Regions from separate parts of the Homo sapiens genome. Here all the other regions are linked to region 5. Evidence: fine-mapped expression QTL. A gene starts in region 5. Each other region holds a variant in brackets. All regions are shown on one strand. Distances are between the middles of the regions. Region 1 overlaps NBPF14 (NBPF member 14). Region 2 has its middle 6.9 kb from the start of RNVU1-1. Region 3 has its middle 21 kb from the start of PDE4DIP. Region 4 overlaps GPR89B (G protein-coupled receptor 89B). Region 5 holds the start of PDE4DIP (phosphodiesterase 4D interacting protein). Region 6 has its middle 62 kb from the start of NBPF9. Region 7 overlaps PDE4DIP (phosphodiesterase 4D interacting protein).

Evidence for each region. PIP is the estimated chance that this variant, and not a neighbour inherited with it, causes the effect. A credible set is the group of variants that fine-mapping cannot tell apart.
Region 1: its variant is the best candidate, but not a certain one, in a credible set for the expression of PDE4DIP in lymphoblastoid cells (GTEx, PIP 0.71).
Region 2: its variant is the best candidate, but not a certain one, in a credible set for the expression of PDE4DIP in whole blood (INTERVAL, PIP 0.61).
Region 3: its variant is the best candidate, but not a certain one, in a credible set for the expression of PDE4DIP in whole blood (GTEx, PIP 0.57).
Region 4: its variant is the best candidate, but not a certain one, in a credible set for the expression of PDE4DIP in whole blood (INTERVAL, PIP 0.88).
Region 6: its variant is the best candidate, but not a certain one, in a credible set for the expression of PDE4DIP in whole blood (INTERVAL, PIP 0.68).
Region 7: its variant is the best candidate, but not a certain one, in a credible set for the expression of PDE4DIP in sun-exposed skin (GTEx, PIP 0.78).

What each region holds. Positions count from the first base shown.
Region 1 is chr1:148,589,031-148,593,600 of GRCh38, forward strand. It overlaps NBPF14 (NBPF member 14), which reads right to left. Exons shown (of 71, transcript NM_001395631.1): 3 at 4,568-4,570; 4 at 3,522-3,736; 5 at 2,402-2,474; 6 at 1,727-1,938; 7 at 154-363. Among named protein-coding and RNA genes, the nearest start is that of NBPF14, 4.7 kb to the right of the region's middle. The variant A/G (reference allele first, on the strand shown) is at 2,500.
Region 2 is chr1:148,367,108-148,371,677 of GRCh38, forward strand. It overlaps LOC124904396. Among named protein-coding and RNA genes, the nearest start is that of RNVU1-1, 6.9 kb to the left of the region's middle. The variant A/G (reference allele first, on the strand shown) is at 2,121.
Region 3 is chr1:148,821,477-148,826,046 of GRCh38, forward strand. It overlaps a transcript of PDE4DIP not described here. Among named protein-coding and RNA genes, the nearest start is that of PDE4DIP, 21 kb to the right of the region's middle. RefSeq lists an enhancer at 3,541-4,083. The variant GC/G (reference allele first, on the strand shown) is at 2,521.
Region 4 is chr1:147,959,805-147,964,374 of GRCh38, forward strand. All of the region lies in intron 7 of GPR89B (G protein-coupled receptor 89B), which reads left to right. Among named protein-coding and RNA genes, the nearest start is that of GPR89B, 34 kb to the left of the region's middle. The variant C/G (reference allele first, on the strand shown) is at 2,374.
Region 5 is chr1:148,842,268-148,846,837 of GRCh38, forward strand. It overlaps PDE4DIP (phosphodiesterase 4D interacting protein), which reads left to right and starts at 2,161. Exons shown (of 47, transcript NM_001395426.1): 1 at 2,161-2,527. The coding sequence starts at 2,508. RefSeq lists enhancers at 1,610-2,331, 2,332-3,054.
Region 6 is chr1:149,039,289-149,043,858 of GRCh38, forward strand. No RefSeq gene overlaps it. Among named protein-coding and RNA genes, the nearest start is that of NBPF9, 62 kb to the right of the region's middle. The variant G/T (reference allele first, on the strand shown) is at 2,514.
Region 7 is chr1:148,924,223-148,928,792 of GRCh38, forward strand. The region is part of intron 4 of PDE4DIP (phosphodiesterase 4D interacting protein); the gene reads left to right. Among named protein-coding and RNA genes, the nearest start is that of PDE4DIP, 82 kb to the left of the region's middle. The variant C/G (reference allele first, on the strand shown) is at 2,452.

The DNA of each region.
Region 1 (4,570 bases), 250 kb before region 5:
TCCAACTTTGACAAAATGTTAAAATACCCATTTCTGTTTTCCTAGAAGTACAGGAAGGATGAAATTATTTTTGATGGAGAGAGCATTTAGTGTCTCAGAGAGAAGACAGGATATCATTCATCACTTTCATGATGGTGAGCCTATAGATCTTACTGTATTTCTTCTGTTGGTTGGCCAGGAAGCCGGACAGTTGAGTTAGAAAACATTTCTCTTTGAGGTTTCTGAACTGCTGTTTCTTCTCTGCCAGCTGGGGGCGCAATTTCTCATTGATTTCTAGAATGTTCATCTCTGCCTTCTCGCTGGACAAAGGGCCGGCTGATACCACCATGCTGACGTTTGTGGCAGAAGAGGTGGGGCCAGGGACTGGGGAGAAGAAAGGCAAACACATGATGGGTTAAAAACTGGTGAAATCAAATAGGCTTAATCAGGACTGAGGGATGTCACTGGCAGCCTTGTTTACTTATTTGAAGATGATGTTTCCCTGGTTTCACTCTTGTCATCTCCAGTCTTGATCTCCTTTAAGTCAACTTGTCTTAGCTATGCAGTCACCTTGAAACCAGGACATAAACACTTCTACACTTTTCTTGCTTATACGTTTCTATAAAGCAAGGCTTGGCCCTGAGATTTTTACCCCATGAGTGGCCAATGTTTCTGTGTAGCACAAAAGATTTCATTTTGCTTTTTTAATTTTTTTCTTTTTTGGTTTTTTGTTTTTTGTTTGAGACGGAGTCTCACTCTGTCACGCAGGCTGCAGTGCAGAGGCACAATCTCAGCTCACTGCCACCTCTGCCGTCCGGGTTCAAGCGATTCTCATCCCTCAGCCTGCCAAGCATCTGGGATTACAAGCGCCAAGTAACATGCCAGCTAATTTTTGTATTCTTAGTAGAGATGGGGTTTCGCCATCTTGGACAGGCTGGTTTCGAACTCCTGAGCTCAGGTGTTCCGCCCACCTCAGCCTCCCAAAGTGCTGGGATTAAGATGTGAGCCAGCGCCCCTGGTCAGAGACTTACTTTTTTTTTTTTTTTTTTTTTTTTTTGAGATGGAGTCTCGCTCTGTCTCCCAGGCTGGAGTGCAGTGGCACAATCTCGGCTCACTGCAAGCTCCGGTTCCTGGGTTCATGCCAATTCTCCTGCCTCAGCCTCCTGAGTAGCTGGGACTACAGGCGCCCACCACCACGCCCAGCTATTTTTTTTTTTTTTTGTATTTTTAGTAAAGATGGGGTTTCACCGTGTTAGCCAGGATGGTCTCAATCTCCTGACCTCATGATCCACCCGCCTCGGCCTCCCAAAGTGCTCGGATTACAGGTGTGACCCACTGCTCCCAGCCGAGACTTATTAATAGCTAAGACAAGCCAATGAAAAGGAGAGAGAGTCTAGCCTGACAGAAGTGAATGAGAGTGGGAGGATCATCTCAGCCCATCCTCCCACCTAAGTCTCCTGAGCAGTTGGGACTATAGGCGTGCAGCACCATGCCTGCCTAATTTTTTGTATTCTTTGTAAAGATGGGTTTCACCATATTGTGTAGGCTGGTCTTCAACTCCTGAACTCAAGTCATCGTCCCACTTGGGCCTTCCAAAGTGCTGTGATTATATGTGTGAGTCACAGCACCTAGCTCCATCCTAGTTTCTGACTAAAACAATAACAATATGTGTATATACAGCCTGTCCTCAGAATTGATCTTCCATAGCCTAGACAGAGGTATGAGACACAAGGAAAATAGAGGCTACCTGGGAGAATGTTTAGAGCATCCTGACATTCATCATGAGAGGATTCTCTGTCTACAACCAGAGTTGAGTTGACTTCGTCTTCCTCAAATGTGATTTTGATGTTCTTGTGAGGCTGGTTGGAGTCACAAGGGCCGTGGCTATTTGAACAAGTGATGGCACATTCCTCCAGTGAGTCCTCAGGGACTTTGCTCTCTTCAGCCTTCTGCACCTCCCTGATGAGCCAGGTGGGACAGAGATGACAGAAGATTAAACACAGAGGGATTGGACCCCAGGGAGTCCTAGCTGGTTTTGACAGGTGGCATTAAGAGAGTGGTTCCAGAAAGCAAAACGGAGGTTCCCTTAAAGAGGGAACAGGCAATCCTCTTCTCTCTGCAACAGACCATGGCTGCCATGGGAGCCAGAGAGGAAGAGAGCAGCTGGTGTTCAGTGCACTGAACAGATAGGAGCTGAGGAGGATGAAGACTCAGCTATCCCTGTATGGTACAGACATGACACTTGGCACACATAGAGAAACACGACAGCTGCCGCACCCTGTGTCTAAGCTGGGTTGAATTTCACATACTGTGGCCAAGGGAATGCGGGCATTTGGCCCATCATAGATGCCAGAGAGGGTGTGCCTCCTAGACATTTTCATACGTTACCACCCATTACTTGCTCCTGAGTATTCAGTGTTACCTGGGGGCAGATGATTCCAGTACTTTCTCAGCCTCCTCAACTTGAACATCTTCATCCTCATCTTCGTCATTTTCTAGAAATACAAAATGTTCGTTCAG[A/G]TATTTCCCACTTCACATTCTGCAAGCACAGTCAGCCCAACGTGCACAGAGACATGAACATCTATGTATGGTTCAGCATTGTACTGAAAACTCTCATGTTTTATCTTTCACAAAATGCCCTGGCATGGTTTCCTGGTCCATCGGGCAATGCATTTCTGATGTGGAGGGCCACCATCAAGATGTGGCCAAATACTGAAAAGACCTTTTGCTTCCCATATCACTGGAGGCTTGTGCAGCCTCTCTCTGGACTTTGGCAGCTGTCTCCCCCATCCTGCCACAGATCTGATTCCCAGGAACAGGCTTGGTGTCCTGTCACAGTTCGCATTTCAAACCTCATTCTTTCTCTTAGGAGAGGACAAACTTGTCCCACAGTCCTCTATGCGTCATGAGATTGCACAGGCCCTCCATGTGGCTTCTGCTGTGTTATTCAGGGACATTCTATCCATGGGGAGTGCTCCAGTCTGAAGCACTTCCTACCACCAAATGCCCCCACATCAAGTGCCTTCTCCAACACCACATGGAGAGGGGCTTCATCTCATTTTGAAAAGCATTCGTAAGTGTTCCCATATTTGGATGCTTCAGACCCTTGCAAGAGACAATTTGTCTGCCTTTGCAGATGGAGAGAGAGAAACTCTGAAAAGATAAATCACTCACTGACACTTACTAAGAACATTGCCAAAAATACAGCCTGGGAACCTTCATTCTTAGCCCAGAGCTCTTTTCACTCCAACAAGCGCCCTTCCATCACAGCCTCCTTCCTGTCCTTTAAAACTAGATAGATGCTGCCTCTTGCTCCAAAGACCACCTTCCATCAAGGAAGGAGGGACACTTGCAATACTGTGACCTCCAAACCCATGGGTTTCCCATCTCTGTTCTTACCCAGGAAGTCCTGATCATGTCATGGCCACATAGGTGTAGTAGAAAAAAACCCCACTGATACAACTGTCATTGTGAAAGTATGGAGGTCTGGAGCCTCTCATAAGCCTGGGGTTTTGGGTCATCAGGGCCTATGGCCACCTTACCTGGGCTGAGCTTTTGGACAAGGTGCTGTGCCAGTCTACACCCCTCAGCCAGCTGTTCTTGGAGGTCCTGCCCCTGGGACTTGTCCGGCTCATACGGAGTGAGGAGGGCCTGGAGATGCTCATACAATGAGCGGGAGGCATCTCTCCCTTCCCGTAACTTCTCCCTTAGCTGGGTCAGCTCTCGTTCCTGAGAGTGAACCAGGACTTTATATTGCCTAAGGTGAGACGGTAGAGAAAATTTAAGAGTAGAAAGGGTTGAGTGATCCGTTCAAATATTGCAACAGAGACTTCTGAGACAATGTCATCAAGGAGACCTCCAAGCAGAAGGTCAGCACATGTTGAAAGGAATGACTGTGGCCAAGAGAAAGAATAGAAAATGGTCTACAGGCTTTCCCTCTATCAGAGAGGGCTCCTGCAAGATCCTCGATGATGTTCCATTCATCTTTCTCTTCTGTAAACAAAAGTAGGTGTCTTCCTAATTCCGTTTCAAAAAGACATCCTTTCAGTTCCTCACTCTGGCCATGGACATTTCCATGTGAAAATACACATAGTGCATCTTGCGGCCACTACATACAAAGCCACGTACAGAAATGAGGCCAGGTGCAGATGGGGCGAATTGAAAAGATGAAAGAAGAAAAGAAGGACAGGGTCGAGGAGGCAACATTGATTGAGTGAAAGAATGAGAAGCCGCAGTCAGTCAGGAGGTGATTCTCACTAAGGGTAAGTGGGGTGGCGATAGCACACCATTTTGATTATACTGAATGCTGCTGGGTGGTTCCCACTCCTTTGGTGAATTTTGTGTTATGTAAATTTCACCTCAACAATTACTTGTTTGAAAAAGAGAAAACAAGGCTCTAAGAAACAACTGCAACAGAGAACTTATTATTATCCTTGTTCTCTGATAAATATTTTTGTGTCATGAGCCTGCCATGGCAATTTCTGCCCTTCCCCTGGCCCAGCTTCGTTCTTACTTCTCCCCGCCGAGCTGCTGTACTTCAGAGATCTACACACCTACCCGCCTGCCTCCCCCTACGGGGTCCCCTCACCTG
Region 2 (4,570 bases), 480 kb before region 5:
CATCTCTGTCAGGAAGATTGAGTTACCTTTAAGTGAAAATCTCCTGACAGATGTTCACTCTGGCAGGGTTGCCTTTTACAAGAGAAACATGAATCCGTGTGTCAACGCACGTAAGTTTAATGGCACAGATTGGTCAGTAATACCTGTTGTGAGTCAGGTGCAGTGGCCCATGCCTGTGGTCCCAACTATTTGGAAGGTTGAAGCAGAAGGATGGCTTGAACCCAGGAGTTCAAGGCTACATTGAGTCATGATTGTGCCACTGCATTCTGGCTTGGGGAATAGAATGGGATCCCATCTCAAAAAAATGTATAAAATAATAATAATACCTGATGTGGTCCCTTCCAACAGTCTTGGGGGGAATATTTTATTTGGTGTTGTTTCTAGTAAACAACATCTCCAGGTTATAGGCCGTGATTTTTAGTATTTTCATCTCCCAGGAGTGCATTATGAAAGGAATCCTTTATTAATGTGGAGTTCTTAGTAAGTTTTGAGAGATCTTAGCAGTAATGGAGAAAGTCACCTTTAAGAAGTGCAGATTCATAAGCGCCTTCATCTAACCACTGCATGGGTCTTCCGTTATTATTTCAAAGAGAGGGAGTGTGGACATTTTCCAGAACCAGTGGGAGATCCTTGGCCAAGAAAGGTTAAAAACTTCTGTTAGCTTTGCCAACTGAGTTTTTATTGTGTCATTAGTACATTCCATCGGCCCAGAGGATTATGGGTGACAGGCACAATGGAAATGTTGGGACATAGGCAAAACATTACAAATGGATCCAATTACCTGACCAATGAAGTGTGTTCCTCAGTTGCTATGGCATTCAGATGGCACTCCCCATGAGGAATTACCTTTTCTTTTCTTTTTTTTTTTGAGATGGAGACTAGCTCTATTGGAAGGCTGGAGTGCAGTGGCACGATCTCAGCTCACTGCAACTTCCGCCTCCCAGATTCAAGCAATTCTCCTGCCTCAGCCTCCTGAGTAGCTGGGACTACAGGTGTGCACCACCACGCCTGGCTAATTTTTGTATTTTTAGTAGAGACGGGGTTTCACCATGTTGGCCAGGATGGTCTCGATCTCTTGACCTCGTGATCTGCCCACCTTGGCCTCCCAAAGTGCTGGGATTACAGGGGTGAGCCACTACGCCCAGCCAGGAATTACCTTTTCTAATCACAATCTACCTACTACTTGGGCTGTGGCTCATTGGCATGGAAATGCTCACCCCAGTGAGCACGTACAAATTAACACCAGAAAGTATCTGTGACCCTGAGATGGAGACAGCTGGATAAAGTCTAACTGCCATGTCTCGAAGGGTCCTAAAGTTAAAATGTCCTTGTGACCCATGAAGGGGCTTTCCAGGGTGATGTTTGGGACAAACAGTACCACAAGAATAAACCTTTTCTGCAATCATAGGCAATGATTTTCAATACCATTGCTTTCCCCATGCTAACATTTTATCTGATTTCCAATGAGGCAGCTTATGAAGTACTGTATTCAGGGTAATTGAAGCCTAAGGGGTGGATCAGTGTATCATTGGGCCCATACCATAAGCCTGTTTCTGGAAGAAACTTGTTCCCTTTATCCTTCCAGAGATCCCTCTCCTGCTTAGGAGCTCCCACTTACGCTTCTTTTTTTTTTTGCTAGAGTCTAGCTGTGTTACCCAGGCTGGAGTGCAGTGGAGCAATCTCGGCTCACTGCAAACTCTGCCTCCCAGGTTCAAGCAATTCTCGTGCCTCTGCCTCTCAAGTAGCAGGAATTGTAGGCATGTGTCACCACACCAGCTAATTTTTGTATTTTTAGTAGAAACAGGGTTTCATCATGTTGGCCAGGCTGGTCTCAAACTCCTCACCTCAAGTGATCCACCAGCCTGGGCCGCCCAAAGTGCTGGGATTACAGGCATGAGCCACCATGTCCAGCCCACTTTTACTTCTAATGAAGTCTTCAATGGGTCATAAGTCAGCAAGGTCATTTCGAGAAGTTCTGTGTCTGATGCCACCTTCAGAACTGCATTCTTAGCTGCAGCATCAGCAAAATGATTGTCCTTGCTCTCCGGAATATCTAGTTTTGAATGACCAGGAATTTTGATGATGGCCAAAGATAAGGGTTTTCAAATTGCTTCTAAGAG[A/G]TCAGAGATTTATTGGTCATTTTTGATGGCTTGACCTGATGAAATCAGATACCTATGTTGCTTCTAAAGCATTCCAAAATCATCACCTACTCCAAATGCATCTCTGCTCCCAGTGTAAATGTTAGGCTGAGGTGGAAGGATTGATTGAGCCCAGGAGTTCATTCAGGTCCAGCCTGGAAAACACAGCAAGATGTCCTCTCTACAAAAAAAAAAAAAAAAAAATCAAAGAATTAGCTGGGCATTGTGGCATGCACCTGTGGTCCCAGCTACTCGGGAGGCTGAGGTGGGAGTATTGCTAGAGCTGAGAGGTTGAGGATGTGGTGGGCCATGATGGAGCCACTGCATTCCAGCCTGGGTGACAGAGTGAGACCCTGTCTCAATAAATCAATAAATAAATCTTAACCATTTAAAATATCAATGACAGATTTGTTTGGCCTTTTAAGTGCATTGCTGAATTCTCCAATCTACATATTGGGGAACAACCTGGGTAATGGCAACATGGAGGTATTTGGCAAAAATGCAGACCCTTTCATTGTCTGCTTCTGTCTGTTTTTAAAAACCCTCTAAAGGATTATTCCAATTCACCCTTTCCAACCATTTAGTGGCCCTGCCTTCTTACACCAACATGTGAATTAATTGATAAAGATCAGAATATCCAGGCTCAAAAGTTTGGACAATTAAGTCAAATTTTCTCCTAAACCCTATAGGATCTTGGAGGTTGCTTTTGAATTAGAAAGGGAAAATTCAGCTGGGTGCAGTGGCTCACGCCTGTCATCCCAGCACTTTGGGAGGCCAAGGCGGGTGGATCACAAGGTCAGGAGTTCAAGACCAGTCTGGCCAAGATGGTGAAACCCCCTCTCTACTAAAAATACAAAAAAATTAGCCAGGCATGGTGGTGGGCACCTGTAATCCCAGCCACTTGGGAGGCTGAGGCAGAGAATTGCTTGAACCCGGGAGGCGGAGGTTGCACTGAGCAGAGAAAAAAAAAAAGAAAGAAAGAAAGAAGGGGAAAATTCATGTAAATTTTCATCAGGGAAGTCTTTTTTTTTTTTTTTTTTTTTTTTTTGATACAGAGTCTTGCTGTGTCACCCAGGCTGAGTGCAATGGCATAGTCTTGGCTCACTGCAACCTCCACTTCCCAAGTTCAAGAGATTCTCCTGCCTCAGCCTCCCGAGTAGCTGGGATTGCAGTCATGTGCCACCATGACTGGCTAATTTTTGTATTTTTAGTATAGATGGGGTTTCACCATGTTGTCCAGGCTGCTCTCAAACTCCTGACCTCATGATCTGCCTGCCTAGTCCTCCCAATGTGCTGGGATTACACGCAAGAGCCACTGCGCCCAGCCCAGGGAAGTCTTTTTATAATATTCTTAATTCACATTTTGGTGAAGCAGTATACAGAATGGTAGGCTCCCCTCTTCCTGTGGGTTTTACCTTGAAAGGGGCTGTCAGAACAGAAGTTTCAGGGAAGGGGCCAGAGCCCTGGGGACTTTCCTCAGGTGATGGTGATGGAAGAAGAGGCAAGGCAGGACCAGAGGGCTCAGGTAAGGGAGACTATGCAGGTGCAGGGGCAGGAGGAGAAGCAGCAGTTGGAGGCGAAAGAGACAAAGCCTCCTCAATATTTCTCAATTCAGAAAACGTGTCAGATGACTTCCTTCAGCTTACTTCCTCACTGGAGGCAATTTTCTCAGTTCTTTTAGAAATTTCTAGGTATCATTGGAAGTATGTCTCCCATTTAATTTGGTTCTAAAACCAAATTTTTTGGCCAGGCGCGGTGGCTCATGCCTGTAATTCCAGCACTTTGGGAGGCTGAGGTGGGTGGATCACGAGGTCATGAGATGGAGACCATCTTGGCCAACATGGTGAAACCCTGCCTCTACTAAAAATACAAAAATTAGCTGGGCATGCTGGCGTGTCCCTTTAGTCCCAGCTGTTTGGGAGGCTGAGGCAGGAGAATCGCTTGAACCTGGGAGGCGGAGGTTGCAGTGAGCCGAGATCATGCCGCTGCCTTCCAGCCTGGGTGACACAGCAAGACTCCATCAAAAAAACAAAAAACAAAAAAACAAAAACAAAAATTTTCCAATTGTGCACACTAATAAATTATTTTAAGCATTTCAAAAGATCCCAATTTTCTTCATTCTGCTTATGACTTAGGAAATGACCAGGAAATGGTTAGGTGGGTCCAGTTTCTTGGATATTTACAAGAGGATGCTTCATAAGTGTTATACATAAACCCAGCTGGTGTTTCTAAAGGTGGTTGTTTCTTCACAGTGTGCTGAATTTTGAAGCTTGATTTCCCATAATTCAGGAGCTTTTCAGATGACCAAGGCCTGCGATGTGTTTTGGGTCACAGTGTGGTGCTTATGAAGTCACTCCTACAGATAACACCGGAGTTGTGTGTCACTGTCTCAGTGGTTCCACTGTTTCTAACCACCAGGTGGCCACAGAGTC
Region 3 (4,570 bases), 21 kb before region 5:
ATAAAGGGATTTCTGATATTAATAAAGTTTATTTTAAAAAAATTTCGTTAGAGAGGAATTAAAGCAGGAGGTGAAAGAACTGCAAAACCCCTAAGGTAGAAATAAGCTTAGTGTGTTTGAGGAAGAAAATGGCCAGTGCAGCTGGAGCATAATAAATAAGAGGAGGGGGCAGAGGTGAACCTGAGCCAGGTCACCTGAGACCTCATAGGCCGTGGTAAGAAGTGGATGTTATTCTAAGGACATGGGGAAGCCAATAAAGATTTAAAACAGGAACATCATATGATCTGAAAAATGTTAAAAAGTCACTTTGCTATTGGAAAACAGACCTTAGGAGGCCAAGAGTGGAAGGAAGGGAGCTGCTTTGCTGGCTATTGCAGTAAGTAACACCAATGTGAGATCATAGCGATTTACATCATGGCGGTAGCAGTGGGGCTGGTAAGAAGAGAAGGACTGAGCCTTCTAGCAGATAACTTGGTACCCTGCAGATCCCGAAAACAAAACCAACAAAGAAGATAACCGGGGGATAAAAAGAGACAACTTCATGGTTGGAGTCTTTATATTAAGTTTTGTTTGAAGCCTCTGTTTGAGGTTTTTTGCTTCACCCTGGTGGAGGTTTTCTCCCCACTCATTATGAGGGTGGGAGTTAGATGGTGGGACAAAGAGATAGAGGTCACTCAAATGAAAAGGACCCTGGATAGTATTAAGAATATCTTCACACAGGGTTGCATATGGTGACCAAATGGTGGTAGCGCCCACGGTGGGAGGGGTAGCAGACATGGTGATGGTATTTCCCTAGAACAGGGGTCCCCAGCCCCCAGAGCATGGACTGGTACTGGTTCTGGCCTGTTAGGACCCCGGCTGCATAGCAGGAGGTGAGTGGCAGGCCAGCGAGCATTACCCCTGAGCTCCACCTCCTGTCGATCAGCAGACCAGCAGCTGCATTCAATTCTCATAGGAACGGGAACCCTATTGTGAACTGGGCATATGAGGGATCTAGGTTGCCTGCTTCTTACGAGGATCTAATACCTGATGATCATTCCAAATCCATCCCCCACCCTGTCCATGGAAAAGTTGTCTTCCTTGAAAATGGTTCCTGGTACCAAAAAGGTTGGAGACCACTGCCCTAGGACACTTTAACCTCTTCATGAAGTTGCCTGTTCTCTTAGATTTATTTGCTAGAGCAGCCTCATAACTATAGGTGATTCATACTAGGTCTCACAGGAGTTCCAAACAGAATTCTGTAATGATTTTATATTGTGAAACCTGACATCTCATGGCAGCAACATTATCATTATCACCATAATTACATATATAATTACATGATTAATATTTATCGAGTAAATGATAAATGCTAGGCCCGATCTTAAACATTTCATAAGAATAATATTATTTAATTTTCACTATAATTCTGTGAGAAAGATGCTATCGTGATCCCGTTTTATAGAGAGGTTAAGTAATTTGACAAGATCACACAGTTATGAAATGGTAGAAGTTGTGTTTAATTGGCAGGTGTTGATTTTCTGTTTCATGTGTATTAGAGTAATTGTTTTTGTGCATCTTGTATGTTTTTAAAATTTTTTCCTAGGTTTGCTTTTTGTTAAAAAGTAAACCAAAACAAAACAAATGAAGACTATAAAACGAAAACCTTTGGTAGAACTTGGGCAAAAATGGTCTGGTCTTCAAGTTAGCATACCAAGTATGAAAATGTCATCTGTTTAAAAATACTAAGCTGCATGATTAAAATTTGACCTTGTGAAAATTTGCTTTCTAATTTATATGGCACACCACCTGAAGGCCAGCACAGAGAAATATATGACCTGTTTAAAACGAAAGGAAGTGTACCTGGGCACGACCAAGAATCTATCAAAAAAGCATCAGAAAGCTCCATATTAAGGTTAATAAAAATAGGTGAACCGCACATTTCAAAGGAGAATCTGGGACACTATTCAAATAACAAAGACTTAAAGCAGGCTGGGTTCACTGCCCAGAATAATAGGCACACGCATTTACAGAATGGGGGGATTTTGTCCACTGTACGCATGCTCATTCACACTCACATCTAACCCTACAACACCAGCTCCGAGAAAGTGGATGCAATGAAGGAAATGTTAACATGAGCAGTGACCCTAGTGTACAAACAATATCAAATTTTAGATTCTTTTTGTTTCCATGATAGTCTAATCTGTATTATCTTTTGGCTATATCAACCTTGACTTTGAAATCTCCAAATAAACATTTCAACCAAAATGTACGGCTATATTGTAATTTCAGCAAGAAGGGTTTTCATTGTTTGCACATATCTTCAAAAAGAAAAAAAAGTGTGCTTGGTAGTAATCAAAAGCACATTCTCGAGTGAGCATGCTTTGGTGGTATATTCTACAGACTGGGAAAGGTCCTACTTATCACTCCCAAATTTTCAGCATACATCTAGTTTCCTGATGTGCAGCGTTAAAAAACTGCTCTGACTTCTTTGTCTTTCTTTACTGTAGAGAGAATAATAGCTTCTTTGTGAATGGGAGA[GC/G]TGGGTCTCTAACTCCACAGAATGACCTTGGATTGGGGAAAGGTTCAGAAGTCTGTGTGTTTGTTACTATTACTATTGCTGCATAGCAAATCACCTCAGTGGCTGAAAACTGCAAGTATTTAGTACTCACAGTTTTGGAGGGTCAGAAATCTGGGAGCAGCTTAGCTGGTTAGAATTGCCTCAAGTTCTCTCATGAGGTTGCAGTCAAGCACTCAGCTGGGGCTGCTGTCATCTCAAGACTCGACAGGGGCTGAAAGGTCCGTTTTCAGACTCACGCACACGGTATTTGGCAGGCTTTAGTTCCTGTCCACACAATAGGTCTGCTTATAACATGGTAGCTTAGTTCCCACAGCACAACTGATCTAAAAGAAAGAGAGCATGCATACTCCAAATGGAAGCCACAGTTGTTTTTGCTTTTTAAAAAATAATCTAATCTCGGAAGCAACATTCCATCACTGCTGCCCTACTGTATTCATTACAAATGAGTACTAGATCCATCCCAGACTCAAGGCGAGGGAATTACACAAGGGTTTGATGACCAGGGATCACTGGGGACCAACTTAGAGACTGCCTATTACAGTCTGCATCCATTACCTGAGCTCCTGGACACCAGAGGAGCAGCAGAATTAGTTCTCCCTTTCTTCTTCTGGAACAAGACTAGTACAAACTAAGCACAAAAGGGAAGGGGGAGTATAACCAGAGCTGAGGCTGAAGACTATGCCAAGCTATGTAAGCCTTATTAAAGATTTTTGTCTATATCCTCAGAACAATAACAAACTCAGACTCTGCTTGCCTCAGTCATCCCTTCAACCACCGCTGGAAGACATTGCTGGCAGTGACTGGCCCTGGGGACTTCAGTGTCTTCTTGCGTGCCTTAAAGGCTAAGGTTCACATCTATGGCTCCAGTGTCCTACCCGAGGGTAGGTTAAAAGAATGACATGGGTGACTCAAGACTAGAGAAGTGCCTGGCCCTGTGAGGCAGACATATTAATAGTTTGAGAGGCAAGAAGTCGGGCCCCAGGTTCCCACCATGAGGAACTAGGAAGCCATAGAAGGAAAATGCAAATGCCACACACCTGCAGGTGCCTGGCGGGTAGCATAAATAAGTGAACCTGCTTAGGTGTAAGGGCATAGGGAATAGTGTTGGTGACTGTGACTGTGACTTTCTGGACCATTGACCAAACAAAATACATCAGTGAAGGCAAGTCTCTAGGATAGTACCACCAGCAGGGGGCACCTGCAGATGGTTTTCATTGTCACAAAATTAGGTTTGGTACTTGGGGATGAGCAGCTATTCACAGTAGAGAAGCTCCAGTTTGAAGTATCCTACACTACTTGAATTCACTACAGGCTGCATGGAGGAAGCAGCATGGCCACTTTGATTTCCAGAACTACCCGTACACAATGTGAAAAGAAGAATAGAGGTGAGGTGGATTTGGTTTTGGAGGTGAGTGAGCAGGTGCCTCCAAATAAGAGTTGGGGCTCAAGGTTTTCTTAAAAAAGATAGACTCTTGAAAAATTGCACTCTAGTTACATTAGTGCCAACTCATGAGGTCACCTGTTCTTTTTTCCCTCTCCCATTATCTCCCCTTTCTACCCCATTCTACCCTCTCCCTGATGCCCTATACATCACAGAAACTTGCCCTTGAGACGTAAGACTGTTTGGAAGGAGGTTGGAAGAGCTGGCCTTGGCTCAGAGAGTTGCTTTTACCTTGTGGTATCTTAAAGGTGCCACCTGATGTCCAACCATTCATAACAGACAGAGAGCTGTTGCCAACAAGGTCAGCAGAACATAGCACTAGAGAGCACCAGAGGAGACACCTAAAGATGTGGCTTTTGGCACATCATCTGGGGATGAACAAGTTGGGCCTGGACTAGGACGAAGCAAGTAAGACACTCCCTGAATCATGAAAATGCAGGGTCAGATCCTGTCTTTATTTAAAGTTTTGATATTTTGTTCATTGCGGATTTTTTTTGCGTTACTATTTTTCTAAAATATTGCATTAAAATATGATTTATCTTGATTACCGAGATTTTGGCACGCTTTAA
Region 4 (4,570 bases), 880 kb before region 5:
GATTTGCAAGGTTGCTGTGCCTTTGATTGAGTGCATTTTCTGAGCTATGTGCAGGTTGAACACACAGTTTGGATGACAGAAAGTGAAAGCTTTTCTGGCTTGAGGTGTCAGAGGGTAGATCTCAGGACTGGCAAAGCAGTTGAAAATTTAGGAGAGATCCCTAGAAGCAAAAGATCCACAGAGAGGATAAGCCCTAAAATATGACTATAGAATTTGTCCAGACTACCACTACCCTACACAAGCTCAAGCTCAGCAGAGAATATCAGGGAGTTAGGCTAAAAAGGAGAAGCTAGAAACCAAGAAACTGAGCAGAAACATTAGCTGCTGCAGGTATGACAGATTTCACAGTTTAAGTAAATTAACTGCTTACTAGTGCCAAAAAAATTAACAATTCTCAGAAAAACAAAACAGATTCCAAAGTCACTACAACATATTACCTTCAACCAAAACTTGCTAGACATGTAAAGAAACAAGACGATGTGACCAATGTTCAAGATAAAAAGCAGCCAATAGATACTAACTCCAAGTGGATCCAGATTACACATTTAACAAAGACTTGAAAGTAACCATTACAAATATATTCAAAAAAGTGAAGGAAAGCATGATACAAGTGAAAAGAGAATCCCAACAAAGAAATGGAAACTTTTAAAAAACAACAAAATAGAAATCCAAAGACTGAAAACTACAGTAACGGAAATAAAAATTTTACTAGGTGGGCTTAACAGGAGAATTGAGATGACAGAAGAATCAGATCCATAAAAATTCAGGCTGGGCATGGTGGCTCACGCCTGTAATCCCAGCACTTTGGGAGGCCGAGGTGGTTGGACACCTGAGATCAGGAGTTAGAGACCAGCCTGGCCAACATAGTGAAACCCTGTCTCTACCAAAAATACAAAACTTAGCTGGCCATGCTTTCACGTGCCTGTAGTGCCAGCTACTTGGGAAGCTGAGGTAGGAGAATCACTTGAACCCAGGAGGCAAGGTTGTAGTGAGCTGAGATCATGCCACTGCACTCCAGCTTGGGTGACAGAGCGAGACTGTCTCAAAACATAAAATAAAAATAAAAATTGAGATAGATTAATAGAAATTATTTAATCTGAAGAATAGATAAAAGATTGAAGAAAAATGGCCAGGTAATCCCAGCACTTTGGGAGGCCAAGGCAGGCGGATCACTTGAGGCCTGGCCAACATGGCGAAACCCCGTCTCTACCAAAAATACAAAAAAAATTAGCTGGGCGTGGTGGTGGGAACCTGTAGTCCCAGCTACTCAGGAGATGGAGGCAGGAGAATGGCTTGAACCTGGGAGGCGGAAGTTGCAGTGAGCTGCAGTCACGCCTCTGCACCCCACCCCAGGTGACAGAGCGAGACTCTGTCTCAAAAAGAAGAAAAAAATAGTAAATATTTTTTTAAAAAAAGATTGAAGAAAACTCAACAAAAGTCTCAGTAGGAGACAATATCAAGCAGTCCAACATTCTTGTGATTGGAGTTCTAAAGAAAAGGAAAGGGGCAGAAAAAGCATTGAAAGAAATACCAGCCCAAAACATAAGAAAACTACACCTATGTGTATATATAGTGAAACTGCTAAAAGGCAAAAGTAAAGAGAAAATCTTGAAAGCAACAAGGGGAAAATGATACATACAGGGCAACAATGGGAAAAAAAAAAGTAATGGTTATTCAACAACATTGTAGAATACCAAATGAACATACAAAAATCAGTTGTAGCCAGGAGCAGTGGTGAATGCGCTTGACCAGCTACTCAAGAGGCTAAAGCGAGAGGATTGTTTGAGCCCAGGAGTTTGAGTGCAGCCTGAGAGCAACGTAACAAGACCCCATCTTGAAAATCCAATTTTTTTAAATCAATTGTCTTTCTATAAGCTAGCAACGGACATATGAACATCAAATGTTTAAATACACTACTTACAATCACTCACAAAATGAAATACATAGAAGTCTAACAAAACATGTATATAGGACTTGTTTGCTGAAAATTATAAAACTAATGAAAAAATCAAATAAGATATAAATAAACCATGTTAATAGATTGGAAGACTTGAATAGTAATGATGTTAATTCTCCCCAAATTGGTATACAAATTTAATGTTATTCATTTCAAAATCCCAGCAAGATTTATTTGTAGATATACACAAAATTATTCTAAAATTTGTACAGAAAGGCAAAATAACTAGAATAGTTAATACAATTTTTAAAAAGAACAGTATGAGAGGAATTCCTCTACCTGATCTTTAAACATATTATATAGCTGCAGTAATCAAGACTGTGGTACTGGTAGACATAGATCACTGGAACAGAAAAGAGAACCCAGAAATACCGACACATGGCCAGGCACGGTGGCTCACGTCTGTAATCCCAGCA[C/G]TTTGGGAGGCTGAGGCAGGTAGATCACCTGAGGTCAGGAGTTTGAGACCATCCTGACCAATATGGCGAAACCCCGTCTCTACTAAAAATACAAAAATTAGCTGGACATGGTGGCATGCGCCTGTAGTCCCAGCTACTTGGGAGGTTGAGACAGAAGAATTGCTTGAATCCAGGAGGCAGAGGTTGCAGTGAGCTGAGATTGCTCCGCTGCCCTCCAGCCTGGGTGACAGAGCCAAACTCTGTCTCAAAAAAAAAAAAAAAAGAAAAGAAAAGAAATACTGACACAAATACACCCAGCTAATTTTTGACAAAGATGCAAAAGCAGTTCAGTGGAGGAAAGATAACCTTTCACCAAATGGTGCTAGAGCAATTAGGCGTCCATAGGTTTAAAAAATGAATCTAAATCTAAGTCTTACACCTTATATAAAATTAAAACACGCCAGGCGCGGTGGCTCATGCCTGTAATCCCAGCACTTTGGGAAGCCAAGGCGGACGGATCACTTAAGGTCAGGAGTTCAAGACTAGACCGGTGAACATGGTGAAACCCTGTCTCTACTAAAAATACAAAAAATTAGCCCGGTGTGGTGGCGGGCACCTGTAATCCCAGCTACTGGGGAGGCTGAGGCAGGAGAATTGCTGAACCCAGGAGGTGGAGGTTGCAGTGAGCCGAGATCCGCCATTGCCCTCCAGCCTGGGCAACAGAGCGAGACTCCGTCTCAAAAAAAAAAAAATTAAAACAGATAATAGACTAAAATGTAAAACTATAAAACTTTCAGAAAAAAAAAAAAGAATCTTTGGAATCAAGGGCTACACAAAAAGTTCTTTACTTGATACCAAAAATAAAATCCATGAAAGGAAAAAATGGATAAATTGGGCTCCATCAAAATTTAACACTTTCGCTCTGTAAAAGACTGTTAAGGCCCGGTGCGGTGGCTCACGCCTGTAATCCCAGCACTTTGGGAGGCCAGGGTGGGTGGATCACAAGGTCAGGAGTTCATGACCAGCCTGGCCAAGATGGTGAAACCCCGTCTCTACTAAAAATACAATAATTAGCCAGGCGTGGTGGCGGGCACCTGTAATCCCAACTACTCGGGAGGCTGAGGCAGGAAAATGGCTTGAACCTGGGAGGCGGAGGTTGCAGTGAGCCAAGATGGAGCCACTGTACTCTAGCCTGGGTGACAGAGCAAGACTCCTTCTTAAAAAAAAAAAAAAAAAATACTGTTAAGAGGATGAAAAGATAAGCTACCCACTGGGAGAAAATATTTGCAAGCCACTTATTTGAGAAAGCACTAGTATCTAGAATAAAAAACATTCAAAGCTTACATTTAAAAAAAATGCAGTTAGAAAATAAGCAAAAATGATGAACATTTTATTGTAGAGGATATACAAATGGCACATAACCACATGAAAAGGTGTTCAACATTGTTAGCCATTATGGACATGCCATTAAAACTACATCGAGATAATCACTACACACCTATCAGAATAGCTAAAATAAAAATTAGTGACAACACCAAATACTAATAAGAATGCAGAGCAACTGGATCACTCATACATTGCTGGCATCCATGTAGAATGGTACAGTCCCTCTGGAACACAGTTTAGCTCTTTCTTTAAAAGCTAAACATGCCGTTACCACACCCCAACAATTGCACTCCTGGGCATTTATCCAGAGAAATGAAGATTTATATTCACACAAAAAACTGTACTTGAATGTTTATGAAAATTACGCTGAGTGAAAAAGAATCCCCAAAGAATATATACCGTATGATTCTAGTTATATATACATTTTTGAAATGATAAAATTACAGAAATGGAGAACAGATTCGTGGTTGCCGGAATTAAGGAATTGGAGGTGGGAGGGAGGTAAGCTGTACAGGTGCACCCTGAAAGATCCTTGTAGTGATGGAAATGTCCCGTATTGTGACTCTATCAATGTCAGTATCCTGGTTGTACTAGAGTTTTGCAAGATATTTCAGTTGAGGAAATCTGGGTAAAGGGTACATGGAATCTCTGTATTTTTTCTCAAAACTACATTATGAATCTACAATTATTTCAAAAAGTTTAACTAAAAAAAAGTAATGGCTGACTTCCTACTAGAAACAACAGAGACCAGAAAATAGTTGACTGACATTTAAACCTCAGTAGACATTTTTTAGCTTCTTCTGTTGTACACTACTACCAAACCTCAGCCAAG
Region 5 (4,570 bases):
ATATTATAAAATATTGTACACTCATTAGAATAATAACTATGAACTTTCCCTAAAAACATGGACAAATATTTACTAAGTGAAAGAAGGAGAATATAAACATATACCTAAGCTGTAATCGTAATTATGTAAATAGATATTTAATATATATAGATAATGACTAAAGGGAATTTGGAGAAATTTAAACATTTGTGCTGTAGCAGTGGTTATATGGGTGAATATTTTTCTTCTGAAATCTAACGCAAAAAAATTGTTCTTTTGACAATAAGTATAATTTTTAAAACAACAAGGAAATTTCTCTTCTCAAGAATATACCCATGTGTGTAAGAAAGAGTTGGTGTTTGGATTAAAAGATGCATTTTTTAAAGAGTGGGAAAAAAATGCAACACATTTTTAATATTGAAGATCCCTGGGTATTCTGAGTAATCTATATAACTTTCTGTATTTTTCAAATGTTTTTACAATGAATGTGCTATAAACTTTTGAAAAAAGTTATTTTAAAAATACATGAACGTATTTTCTAGCGTCACTTCTGAGACCCCACAGCTCACCTAGTTAGTGCTATCATTTCTTGAATCCAGTGAGCTGCCTGTAGACAGAGTTCCTCTCCACAACTCGGTAGCCCATAATTTGATTTGAGACAAAGCTAAATATAGCCCCAACTTTGGTATGAAGGATGGGAATCTGACTCTCCCTGCCTTTTCTTCCCCCCCATCAGAGGCAACAGGATATTCTTTTCAAGACAGGTGGCCTGTGAGCCTTGTCTAAGATCAAACTGGACCTTGAAATTTTTCCTGGTAACATTTTGAGCTCTGGAGCAGTGTGGTCCTACCAATAAATCAAGTGTTGGAGGAGTCTAGACTAGGGGCTTTTTAGACAGTTCTGCTAAACCTTCAAATGTTTTGTTATCCTCCCCTCCCCACCCCTACTTTGTACTAGTATGTAGGGGAACCAATCCAAGAGATAACAGACAGATGACAGGTTCCCCCAAGAACACAGACTCCCCACAGTCTCACCAATACCCAGGCATGCCAGGTTCTTCCTGAGTTAAATGCCTAGGAGGCCTGAAAGAATAAATTCATCCTGGAGAAGTCTTGTGGGTCGTAGCTTTAGAAATTCAGGGAACATATCTCTGGGGCCACCCAATGGAGAACACAGCCTGTATCAGAACCTTAGCAGAGACTTTGGGCCTTTTGGGGTCTCAAATTTATCATCTCTGAAACAAGTACAACGAAATTAACATTGCCACATGTGGGCACTATAAAGCCTTTTTCAGATAAAAAAAAAGGTCAGTGATAGTGCTAATAATAACAGTGATTATGTCATTTAATAAAACGGTCTTATTTGAAAGCTAAAAAGGAGCTTCAGGGTGGCAAGCACTCTAATTATAGTATGTCTGCCTTGTTTAAATCTTGATACATAAGTACATGGTACAGGGCCTGAGGCAATGCCATCTCCAAAGAGGCCTTTTCCATGATCTTAAAACAGTCACAAGGGAGTGTCGAGGTCCTGATGGCTACTGTCTTGAGGCTTTTCTAGTGTTCTGGGAGTCAGGAAGCTTCTCCCTCCTTGAAGCTATTGGTAGAGCCCAGTTGCTGGCGAAACTGAAAAACGAGGAGGTAGAATACCCTAAAACAGGAGATGTCTGGGATACAGGCAGCTAATAGGGCTGTAAGGTTTTGTTGGGATGCTTCCCTTCCTGATGAAGGGTCCTGTCCCTGGATTAATGGTGAAACTGGCATGTCACATCTCTAGGAAGACAACATCGTGTTCCATGACCACGTAGGGTATACATCTGCATTCAGCCGGGATTGCTCCTAAACCTTCCTAGACTCCATCTCTGGCTCTGGGGTTACCTGTGGGTGGGGCGATGCAGACACACAAGAAAACCTCCTCTACAAATTCTTCCTGTAGTTGGTTGATTGTATTCTAAGACCTTCGTTGGGATGGGCGAGGGACGGGGCTTGGTACCGCGTCCTCTAAGCTCTCTGCCCTCTGCCGTCATCATTCATCTGAGCCAGCGAGAGAGGGGTCGGGGAGACGCGAGGGTGGTTCAGGGGGCGTGTAACCTGGGCCGATTCTGCCCCAGCACACTGGTTGTCGGGAGCCCCGCCTCCGCTCGCGGTTGACAGCTCAGCTGGTGCCGAGCAACTCGTGCCAGCCAGTCGTGTCTCAGCCTGGAGAGTGCGCGCACCGCGGCCCGGGCAGCCGCTGGCTCCAGCTCACGAAACAGCCCCGGGCGCCGCGCCGCTCTGAGTCCAGCCTCCTACTGAGAACAGTCCCTCCCTTGTGCGGGTCGCACGGCTAGCCGCAGGTTCGGCCACGTCAAATCCATTTTCTAAAAAAGCAGGGAGCAGAGCTCTCTCTTCGCCGCCGACGCAGAAAGGAGCTGGGGAGGAAAAAGCTGCTGCCTTTTGCGCTGGAGATTCGTGGGCAAGGCTTCTCATTTTCCCAGGCTGCTTCCCCTCCCGGGTGAGGAGCGTCCTGAGACTAAGGAAAGAGCCTGGAAAATGGAGCAGACCTGGACGAGGTAGGTGGGCTGTTTCCTTCTCGCCGCGCTCCAGACTTGGTGGTCCTCCTCCCTCCCCTCCCCCAGCGCCCTTAGGGAGAGAGAGGTCGCCCCTCACCACCAGGGTCCCGTGACAGCTTCCCTTTTCTGTAGCCTCGCCCTGCCTGGTTCCCAGCCCACCTCTCTTGGTCATTTTCACATGTTCTGTTTTACGGGGTTTCCCTTGCTTAATGACTCTCCCCTCCACCGAGTCCTGATGTTAAAAATACCCAGGGAGGCCGCCTGGAACTTTCTGTAGAAATGGTTCTCTGTCGTTTCCTTGTTCGTGTGGCTAGAGGGATTCCAGTAGGTCTTCTTGAGAGATATGTTTGATGTCAGATGCTTTGAACAATATCAGGTTTATTCTCACCCTGCCACGTTTTCCTTCTCAGCCTCATCTGTCACTACTCACACAAAGGCAAAGGGACTGAGTGAGCAGAGCCCAGCAGCACTCATCTCCACAACCTCCAGTTGGAGCCCACTTGGGGGAGGAATGGAGAAGGAAAGAGATCAGGGCACCACACTGCTCAGGCTTTATTGAGGCCAGGCAACAGTTGGCTTTTAGGTCAGATTTTGGAGATGGCCTGTGAAACTGCGTTTTCTTCCAGTCCTTCCCCCAGACACACTTTAAAATGAAGCCCCATTCAAGGAAAGGGTAAGGATAAGAGACCATGTATTGAGACAAAGACTTCGTTTCTGTTTTTTAGTGGGTGGGAGGGTAGGGAGACTATTCCAGCGGTGTCTCTATAACAGATACGCTTCCATCTGTGGGATTTAGCTTTGGAGAATTGGGGTGGGGCCAAATGAGCGCTCTGACTCCTGAGAGAGTGAAGACGGTACAAACACAGAAGGTAAATTTGGGGCTTATGCAAAAGACTTGGGTGCTTTTAGTTGATTGCTAAGCTCAACAGGAGTGAATGGTATAATGTGAATATTAAAGAAGGAGCAAATTGAAGCTTAGGGTTTGTTGACAGAAGAAGTAGGCTGTCTAGATTCTGTCTAGATCAAAAGTGATGATTTTACTTTTGGCTCCTTTCTGCTCCTCTTGGGCCTCTCCGAGAGGGCTGTGCTTAGTTCTGGGCATCATTAGATAAAATAAGTACAATCAAGAGACAGGAGGGAACTCAAAGCCATGCCTTGAGGGATGGCCAAAGGAAGGACCTGGGACTCCTGAGTCCGGAGAAATGACGACTGGGAGTGGGGAGGATGTGGTAGCTTCCTTCAAATTTCCGAAGAGCTATTGGTGGTAGAGGGATTGAATCACATTAGAATCTCTTAGGAGGACAGAACAACCGATGCAAGCGAGTTGTTGGGAGGCGAGTTATGGCTCAGTGTAAAGAAAAAGCTTTCTGGCCAGGTGCAGTGGCTCATGCCTGTAATCCCAGCACTTTGGGAGGCTGAGGCAGGCGGATCACCTGAGGTCGGGAGTTCGAGACCAGCCTGACCAACATGGAGAAACCCCATCTCTACTAAAATACAAAATTAGCCGGGCGTGGTCGCACGTGCCTGTAATCCCAGCTACTCCGGAGGCTGAGGCAGGAGAATCGCTTGAACCCGGGAGGAGAAGTTTGTGGTGAGCCGAGATCAAGCCATTGCACTCCAGCCTGGGCAACAAAAGCGAAACTCCGCCTCAAAAAAAAAAAAAAAAAAAAAAAAAAAAAAGACCAGGCGAGGTGGCTCACGCCTGTAATTGCAGTACTTTGGGAGGCTGAGGGGGGCGGATTACGAGGTCAGGAGATTGAGACCATCCTGGCTAACACAGTGAAGCCCCGTCTCTACTAAAAACACAAAAAAAATTAGCCGGGCGTGGTGGCGGGCGCCTGTAGTACCAGCTACTTGGGAGGCTGAGGTAGGAGAATGGCGTGAACCCGGGAAGCGGAGCTTGCAGTGAGCCGAGATCGCGCCACTGCACTCCAGCCTGGGCGACAGAGCGAGACTCCGTCTCAAAAAAAAATTAAAAAAAAGCTTTCTAACAAGTTAGCTGCCTGGGCAGTATGGGCAGTAAAGAGATTGTTGACCCTGGAG
Region 6 (4,570 bases), 200 kb after region 5:
GTTGAAAATTCTTTTCTTTACGAATGTCGAATATTAGCCCCCACTCCCTCCTGGCTTGTAGAGTTTCTGCCAAGAGATCAGCTGTTAGTCTGATGGGCTTCCCTTTGTGGGTATCCCGACCTTTCTCTCTGGCTGCCCTTAACATTTTTTCCTTCATTTCAACTTTGGTGAATCTGACAATTATGTGTCTTGGAGTTGCTCTTCTCGAGGAGTATCTTTGTGGTGTTCTCTGTATTTCCTGAATTTGAATGTTGGCCTGCCTTGCTAGGTTGGGGAAGTTCTCCTGGATAATATCCTGCAGAGTGTTTTCCAACTTGGTTCCATTCTCCCTGTCACTTTCAGGTACACCAATTAGACATAGATTTGGTCTTTTCACATAGTCCCATATTTCTTGGAGGCTTTGTTCATTTCTTTTTATTCTTTTTTCTCTAAACTTCTCTTCTCACTTCATTTCATTCATTTGATCTTGAATCACCAATACCCTTTCTTCCAGTTGATCGAATCGGCCACTGAAGCTTGTGCATTTATCATGTAGCTCTCATGCCATGGTTTTCAGCTCCACCTGGTCCTTTAAGGACTTCTCTGCATTGGTTATTCTAGTTAGTCGTTCATCTAATCTTTTTTCAAGGTTTTTAACTTCTTTGCAATGGGTTCGAACTTCCTCCTTTAGTTCGGAGTAGTTTGATATTCTGAAGCCTTCTTCTCTCAACTCATCAAAGTCATTCTCTGTCCAGCTTTGTTCCATTGCTGGTGCGGAGCTGCATTCCTTTGGAGGAGGAGAGGCACTCTGATTTTTAGAATTTTCAGTTTTTCTGTTCTTTTTTTCCCCCATCTTTGTGGTTTTATCTACCTGTAGTCTTTGATGATAGTGACATACAGATGGGGTTTTGGTGTGCATGTCCTTTCTGTCTGTTAGTTTTCCTTTTAACAGTCAGGACCCTCAGCTGCAGGTCTGTTGAAGTTTGCTGGAGGTCCACTCCAGACCCTGTTTGCCTGGGTATCAGCAGTGGAGGCTGCAGAACAGCAAATATTGCTGAACAGCAAATGTTTTTGTCTGATCGTTCCTCTGGAGGTTTTGTCTCAGAGGGGTACCCGGCCGTGTGAGGTGTCAGTCTGCCCCTACTGGGGGATGCCTCCCAGATAGGCTACTTGAGAGTCAGGGACCCACTTGAGGAGGCAGTCTGTCTGTTCTCAGATCTCAAACTCCATGCTGGGAGAGCCACTACTCTCTTCAAAGCTGTCAGACAGGGACATTTAAGTCTGCAGAGGTTTCTGCTGCCTTTTGTTTGGCTATGCCCTGCCCCCAGAGGTGGAGTCTACAGAGGCAGGCAGGCCTCCTTGAGCTGCAGTGGGCTCCACCCAGTTTGAACTTCCCTGCAGCTTTTTTTTCCTACTCAAGCCTCAGCAATGGCGGGCACCCCTCCCCAAGCCTTGCTGCCACCTTGCAGTTCGATCTCAGACTGCTGTGCTAGCAAGGAGTGAGGCTCCGTGGGTGTGTGACCCTCTGAGCCAGGCATGGGATATAATCTCCTAGCGTGCCGTTTGCTAAGAACATTGGAAAAGTGCTGTATTAGCATGGGAGTGACCCAATTTTCCAGGTGCCATCTGCCACAGCTTTGCTTGGCTATGAAAGGGAATTCCCTGACCCCTTGCACTTCCTGGGTGAGGCGATGCCTTGCCCTGCTTCAGCTCATGCTCGGTGAGCTGCACCCACTGTCCTGCACCCACTGTCTGACAAGCCCCAGTGAGAAGAACCCAGTACCTCAATTGGAAATGCAGAAATCACCCATCTTCCGCATCACTCATGCTGGGAGCTGTAGACTGGAGCTGTTCCTATTCAGCCATCTTGGAACAGCCCCTGGGTTTTGACTCTTTATCCAATTTGCCAGTCTGTGTTTTTTAATTGGGGAATTTATCCCATTTATGTTTCAGGTTAATATTGTTATGTGTGAATTTGATCTTGTCATTGTGATACTAGCTGGTTATTTCCCACCTTTTTTTCTTTTTTTTTGAGATGGAGTCTCGCTCTGTCACCCAGGCTGGAGTGCAGTGGTGTGATCTCGGCTCACTGCAAGCTCCACCTTCCAGGTTCACACCATTCTCCTGCCTCAGCCTCTTGAATAGCTGGGACTACAGGCACCCGCCACCATGCCCGGCTAGTTCTGTTTTTGTATTTTTAGTAGAGATGGGGTTTCACAGTGTTAGCCAGGGTGGTCTCAATCTCCTGACCTTGTGATCCGCCCGCCTCAGCCTCCCAAAGTTCTAGGATTACAGGCGTGAGCCACTGCTCCCGGCCTTATTTTACCTATTAATAGATGCAGTTTCTTCATAGCATAGATGGTCTTTACAATTTGGCATGTTTTTGCAGTGGCTGGTACTGGTTGTTCCTTTCCATGTTTAGTGCTTCCTTCAGGAGCTCTTGTAAGGCAGGTCTGGTGGTGACAAAGTCTCTCAGCATTTGCTTGTCTGTAACAGATTTTGTTTCTCCTTCACTTATGAAGCTTCATTTGGCT[G/T]GATATGAAATTCTGGATTGAAAATTCTTTTCTTTAAGAATGTTGAATATTGGTCCCCACTCTCTTCTGGCTTGTAGTGTTTCTGCCAAGAGGTCCGCTCTCAGTCTGATGGGCTTCCCTTTGTGGGTAACCCGACCTTTCTCTCTGGCTGCCCTTAATATTTTTTCCTTCATTTCAACCTTGGTGAATCTGACAATTATGTGTCTTGGGGTTGCTCTTCTCAATGAGTATCTTGTGGTGTTCTCTGTATGTCTTGAATTTGAATGTTGGCCTTCCTTGCTAGGATGGGGAAGTTCTCCTGAATAATATCGTGAAGAGTGTTTTCTAACTTGGTTCCATTCTCTCTGTCACTTTCAGGTACAGCTATCAAATGTAGATTTGGTCTTTTTACATAGTCCCATATTTATTGGAGTCTTTGTTCATTTCTTTTTACTCTTTTTCCTCTAATCTTGTCTTCTCACTTTATTTCATTAATTTGATCTTCAATCACTGATATCCTTTATTCCGCTTGATTGAATTGGCTATTGAATCTTGTTTATGCTTCATGAGGTTCTCATACTGTGGTTTTCAGCTCCTGCAGGTCACTTAAGCTCTTCTCTACACTGTTTATTCTAGTTAGCCATTCATCTAACCTTTTTTCAAGGTTTTCAGCTTCCTTGTGATGGGTTAGAACATGCTCCTTTAGCCCGGAGAAGTTTGTTATTACCGACCTTCTGAAGCCTGCTTCTGTCACCTCATCAAACTAATTCTCCATCCAGTTTTGTTCCCTTGCTGGTGAGGACTTGTGTTCCTTTGGAGGAGAAGAGGCGCTCTGGTTTTTGGAATTTTCAGCCTTTCTGCTCTGGTTTCTCCCCATCTTTGTGGTTTTATGTACTACTTTGGTCTTTGATGTTGGTGACCTACAGATGGGGTTTTAGTGTGGATGTCTTTTTGTTGATGTTGATGCTATTCCTTTCTGTTTGTTAATCCTTCTAACCAGGCAGGTCCCTCAGCTGCAGGTCTGTTGGAGTTTGCTGGAGGTCCACTCCAGACCCTGTTTGCCTGGGTGTCACCAGCAGAGGCTGCAGAATAGCAAATATTGCTGCCTGATCCTTCCTCTGGAAGCTTTGTCCCAGCGGGGCACCCACTTGTATGAGGTGTCTGTCGGCCCCTACTGGGAGGTGTCTCCCAGTTAGGCTACACGGTGGTCAGAGACCCACTTGAGGAGGCTGTCTGTCCATTATCAGAGCTCAAATGCCACGCTGGGAGAACTACTGCTGCCTTTAGGGCTGTCAGGCAGGGACATTTAAGTCTGCAGAAGCTGTCTGCTGCCTGTTATTCAGATATGCCCTGCCCCCAGAGGTGGAATCTAGAGGCAGTAGGCCTTGCTGAGCTGCAGTGGGCCCTGCCCAGTTCGAGCTTCCCTACCACTTTGTTTACACTGTGACCATGGAACCAAGTACTCGAGCCTCAGCAGTGGCAGAACCCCCTCTCCCTGCCATGCTCCAATGTCGCAGGTTGATCTCAGACTGCTGTGCTAGCAGCAAGCAAGGCTCCATGGGCATGGGACTTGCCGAGGCAGGCACAAGAGGGAATCTCCTGGTCTGTCAGTTGCAAAGACAGTGGAAAAAAGCACAGTATTTGAGCAGGAGTGTACTGCTCCTCCAGGTGCAGTCACTCACAGCTTCCCTTGGCTAGGAAAAAGAAATCCCCCAACCCCTTGCACTTCCCAGGTGAGGTGACACCCCACCCTGCTTTGGCTCATCCTCTATGGGCTGCACCCACTGTTCAACGAGTCCCAGTGAGATGAACCAGGTACCTCAGTTGGAAATGCAGAAATCACCTGTCTTCTGCGTCTATCTCACTTGAAGCTGTAGACCGGAGCTGTTCCTATTCAGCCATCTTGGAAGCAACCCTCTTTTTTTTTTTTTTTGTATTTTGGTAGAGACAGGGTTTCACCATATTGCCCAGACTGGTTTCAAACTCCTGAGGTCAAGCCATTCTATAAAAGAAAATTATATTTGTTTTATCTGAGTTCCTTCCTCAGGAAAGGACTCTCAGTCCTCTCAAAAAGCATC
Region 7 (4,570 bases), 82 kb after region 5:
ACAGGGGACGGAGCATTTAACCATGAAGCTGAAGGGCACACAATGATGTGGCACCAAGAAGCATAGGGCATGTTTGGGAAATCCAGTTAGGCTAGCAGATAATAATGGAAGATAAAGCTGGAGAGGTAGATTGAGGTCAAATTTTGAATAGACTCTATTATCAGGCCAGTTGTGTATAATTTAATCGCTGTACAGTTAAAAATCGTTAAAAGGTTTTTTCTTTCTTTCCTTTTTCTTCTTTAGCTGGACCTGCATCACATATTAAATGCTTTTTGAACAGACGGAATGAAATAACCAGAGCTATGCTTTAGGAAAAATTTAAGTAGTAGAGGGACTGAGGTTGGGGAAACCAGATATGAGACTATTCATGTACTCCAGTCCTGGGGAGAAGGAAGAAATACCTAATAGAAGTTTAATTTCAGCTTCATCATTGAAACTTTTTCTTGAGTTAGATGGGCGAACACTCCTTTGGAGGCATGAAGAAAGAGAAGTGCTTTCTTCCCATCTCCCCTTTCTTGAGTACATAAATTTCCTTAGATATCTTGACAAAGAGCCAAGAAGACTTGGTGATAAAATAAGCAAATGCAGTTAATTTGGAATCTACTGATGCTATAAAAGAATTTAACAATTTACACATGAATATTTAGTAATGGAGAATGAATAAATGTGATAAGCTATATGATGATTTTTCTACAGAAAGAAGGTGCAAGAAGGTTAGACTTTGATGTAAGATTATTGCTTTTACCTTGAAAACCCTTCTGGATTTCAGCTATCCTAGTTAGAGAGGGTAAATTGTTATTGTTTTTATAGTTAATAATAGTTATCATTTTCTGAATACTGACTGCATGCCAGGCACTGTGCGATGTGATTTTTGTGCATAATTTCATTTAGTCTCCCTAACATCCTTTGTAGATTGGTATCATTGTTATCTCCTTGATAGATGAGGTGAATGAGGCTCTTAGAGAGGGCAGGTGACTTGTCAAGCCCCCTTCTCGCCTTCAGAGCCTATGCTCTTGACCACTGTACTTACTGCCTCCATATATTCTTTCAAGACTAAATGCAGCACATTCTCTAATTCTATAATTTACCACATTCTACAAAATCAGACAAAACTGGGCAGTGTTTGCTAAGCTGGTCTCTCTGATAAAAGGCTAAAGCAAGAGTGGAGTGTTGGTTTCAGTTACGGCTTTTACCTTGGAGGTAACCCTTCTGGATTTCAATTTCCTTGTCTTTAAACTAAGAGAACTAGAACACAGAAATGCTGAGGTCTTCAAATCTGTGAATCTTTGGCCAAATTGGTCAAAGCATTGACTTCATTTTCTTCAGTAGGATTTAGAACAGATAGAACGTACTAATTTATGTCCTCTGTTTTTCTTCCTTTTAGATCTAAGTATTTTTCCTGGTAAGGCTGGGGTCTCTGACTGGCACTAGTCAGCCTGGACATGAAGGGAAAGTGAATCAAGGTTGTTGCACAGCTGTGTGCAAGGCATTGTTCTATGCTTATCATGCACATTGTCTCATTCAATCCTCACAGAATCCCTCGTGAATACTTATCTTCATTAAAAAGCAAAGCAACCACACTATACTTATAAGAAAACTGAGGCTCATAGTGATTAGTTAACCTGCCCAAGGTCACCTAGCAGGAAAGTGATAGAGCCAGGATTCGAACCTAATTCTTTCTGGCTTTAGGTTGGTTTCATAGTGCCTCTCACTTTCCCTGTTGTTTGTTTATTTTTATTTGAATATTCAAAGATTCCTCATGCAAAAATAGTATTAATAGTAAGGGACTTTTCAGGGAACTTTCTGTTGATCAGTTTATACCTGATAGAGATTCCCTATGTCACATCATGAGACTAAGAACTAGGCAGAGGACATCCATATAGCTCCAGTCATTTGAGACCTCACGTATTTTTAGATATGAGATTTTTAAAAAATCTGCTCAAGCAGTTTTGGCTTATCTGAGGTGGTTTAGCATATCCAGACTTTTCTGATTTATATAAATTAGCCAGGCATAGGAATATCATTGATAATAACACTTCATAATTATAGATTCCATTTTCTTTCATATGAGATTTAAATAGCTTTTTGCCCACTCTTTGTCATTTTCCAGGTGGAGAAGCCTTAGCAGAATTTTACCCAAGGTCACAGAAGTGAATCAATTGGTGGCAGAAATAATAATAAACTTAGGAGTCCTCTTTCTCAGCACCATATCCTGAACACTGAATCCACTTGAAACATTATGGTCTCATGGAAAGCAAACTGCTGTTCCAAATGATAATGCTGTTGTTCTTGATGATGATGGTGATAATAATATTATTATAATTAAAATTATAGTTATACCTGTGTTAGAAACACTGTCCTAAGTCCTTTACATGTATTGATTTATTTATGCCTCACGATCCTCTCAGGTAGGTTTATGAATGAGGAAAATACAATTATCTGCCTATTACA[C/G]ATTAGGAAGTTGCTCCCTCTTTGCATTTCCCACATAATTGAATGCATATTCCTTCACCTCTATGAAGGGCCTCTAGCTTAGGGACTATTTTTTATGAAGACATTTGAATTCCTTTAAGTATTGACCACAAAGCTGGGGACATAGCAACTGTTTAGCAAATCTTCTATTTTACTGATTCATCAATTGGTACAGATGAATTATTCTTGCAGTGCCAGGCCATGGAACTGATATAGAGATCTTAGACTTGTTCTTCATACAAAATTGAAATATGCGTGTTTCCATTTGTTAATCTTTTGGTATTTGTATTGCAGAATAAAATACAGGGTACTCAATTCAATTTAAATTTCAGATAAACAACAAACAATGTTTTAGCGTTTAAGTTATGTCTCAAATATTGCAAAGGATATACTTCTAATGAAACAAATTATTTGTTGTTTATCTGAAATTTAAATTGAAGTAGATATCTTATATTTTTATTTGCTAAATCTGGTAATGCTATTTAGTGTTCATAAAATAATAACTTTAAAGTATATCCTGAAAAGACAGGGCTATCATTCCTTCTTTTGAAGAAATTAGGATATTTTCATCTCACTGGATCTGAATCTATGTTCTAACCTTGGTCAAAAGGTACCTACTTATGAGGGGAACAAACATTCTTCTCAGTATGTCACTAAAAACATACTAGTAATATGATCTAAAATGCCTTGAGTCCAACTGCCTTCCAGCTCTAAAATTCTTTAATTCTAAGTAACTCTCAAATATCTAAACTAGGTTTCTACTTTTCCCAATTAGTATTTGTGTTTCGACCACCCTGCATGGAAACATGGGTTATGAAATGCCTTCACAAGTATGGTAGAAAATATGCTGCTATTGTATGTTGCCTTGGACTTCTAGAAGTCTAGGTGTTGGTGGTTATTATATGGCGATAGTAAAGTAAAATCCTCCCTACTGTTCTAGTACCCACAATACTACTTTTCATACTTTAGCTACTTTACCTTCAGTCTCTCTGTCAACCTCTGATCTAAAGACTTCTTTACTAAATAACATTCTTCTTGCCTAATACTGTATTATGGACTTCATCAGGGAAGGGACTAATCCATCTTTGCATGCTAACGTTTAAGCTGAAATAAAGTAATCCCTCAATTAACATTTTGCAGAAACCTCCTTAGGTTCCCCTACAAACCTGCCCCTATTTTAGTTAATAGAATGCATTCCCACTGACATGCTGGAAATTTCAGCATTGTCTTTGGTCCTCCCTCCAGTCTAATCTGAATCTCACAAGTCATCAAGGCCTGTGGCTTCTGTCTCTGAAATGGCTTTTGAGTCTTTCTCCCTGTACCTCTTGTCCTTAGACAGTCCCCCTCCCTATTCTGGTTAGTTGCCCCTGACCCACCCACCTTCTTCATAATTCCTTCTTCAACATGGACCCGATCATGCCAATACTTTGCTTAAAGCTCCCTGATAAGTCTTTGATTTCTACTGATTATTATCCAGTTTTTTACTTTTTTAATTTTTTTTATTTTGAGACAGAGTCTCTCTCTGTCACCCAGGCTGGAGTGCAGCAGCATGATCTTGGCTGACTGCAACCTCCACCTCCTGGGTTCAAGCGATTCTCCTGTTTCAGCCTCCCAAGTAGCTGGGATTACAGGCGCATGTCACCACGCCCAGCTAATTTTTGTATTTTTAGCAGAGATGAGGTTTCACCATGTTGGTTAGGCTGGTCTCTAAAGCCTGACCTCGAGTGATCTGCCTGCCTTGGCCTCCCAAAGTGCTGGGATTATAGGTGTGAGCCACCGTGGCCGGCCTATCTAGTTGTCTTAGCAGGATTTTCACAAACTAGTTGCAAACTATTTTCTATACTCCTTACCACACACTAAGCCACTTAACCTGCACCAGACACACTTGGGATGTTTTTATTTCCTTATTTCTGTTTCCCCAAATCTTACTTGTTGCATCCTCACCTCAATAAAAATTAATTGTTCCCTGTATAACTTTACCATCAGAGTCCCCTCTCACCTTAAGCAAACCTAATTTATAAAATTCCAATTTTATGATAAAAGCATTGTTTTTAAAAATGTTTACAACCAAATTTCTTTAAATAATTAAATCCCCAGACAT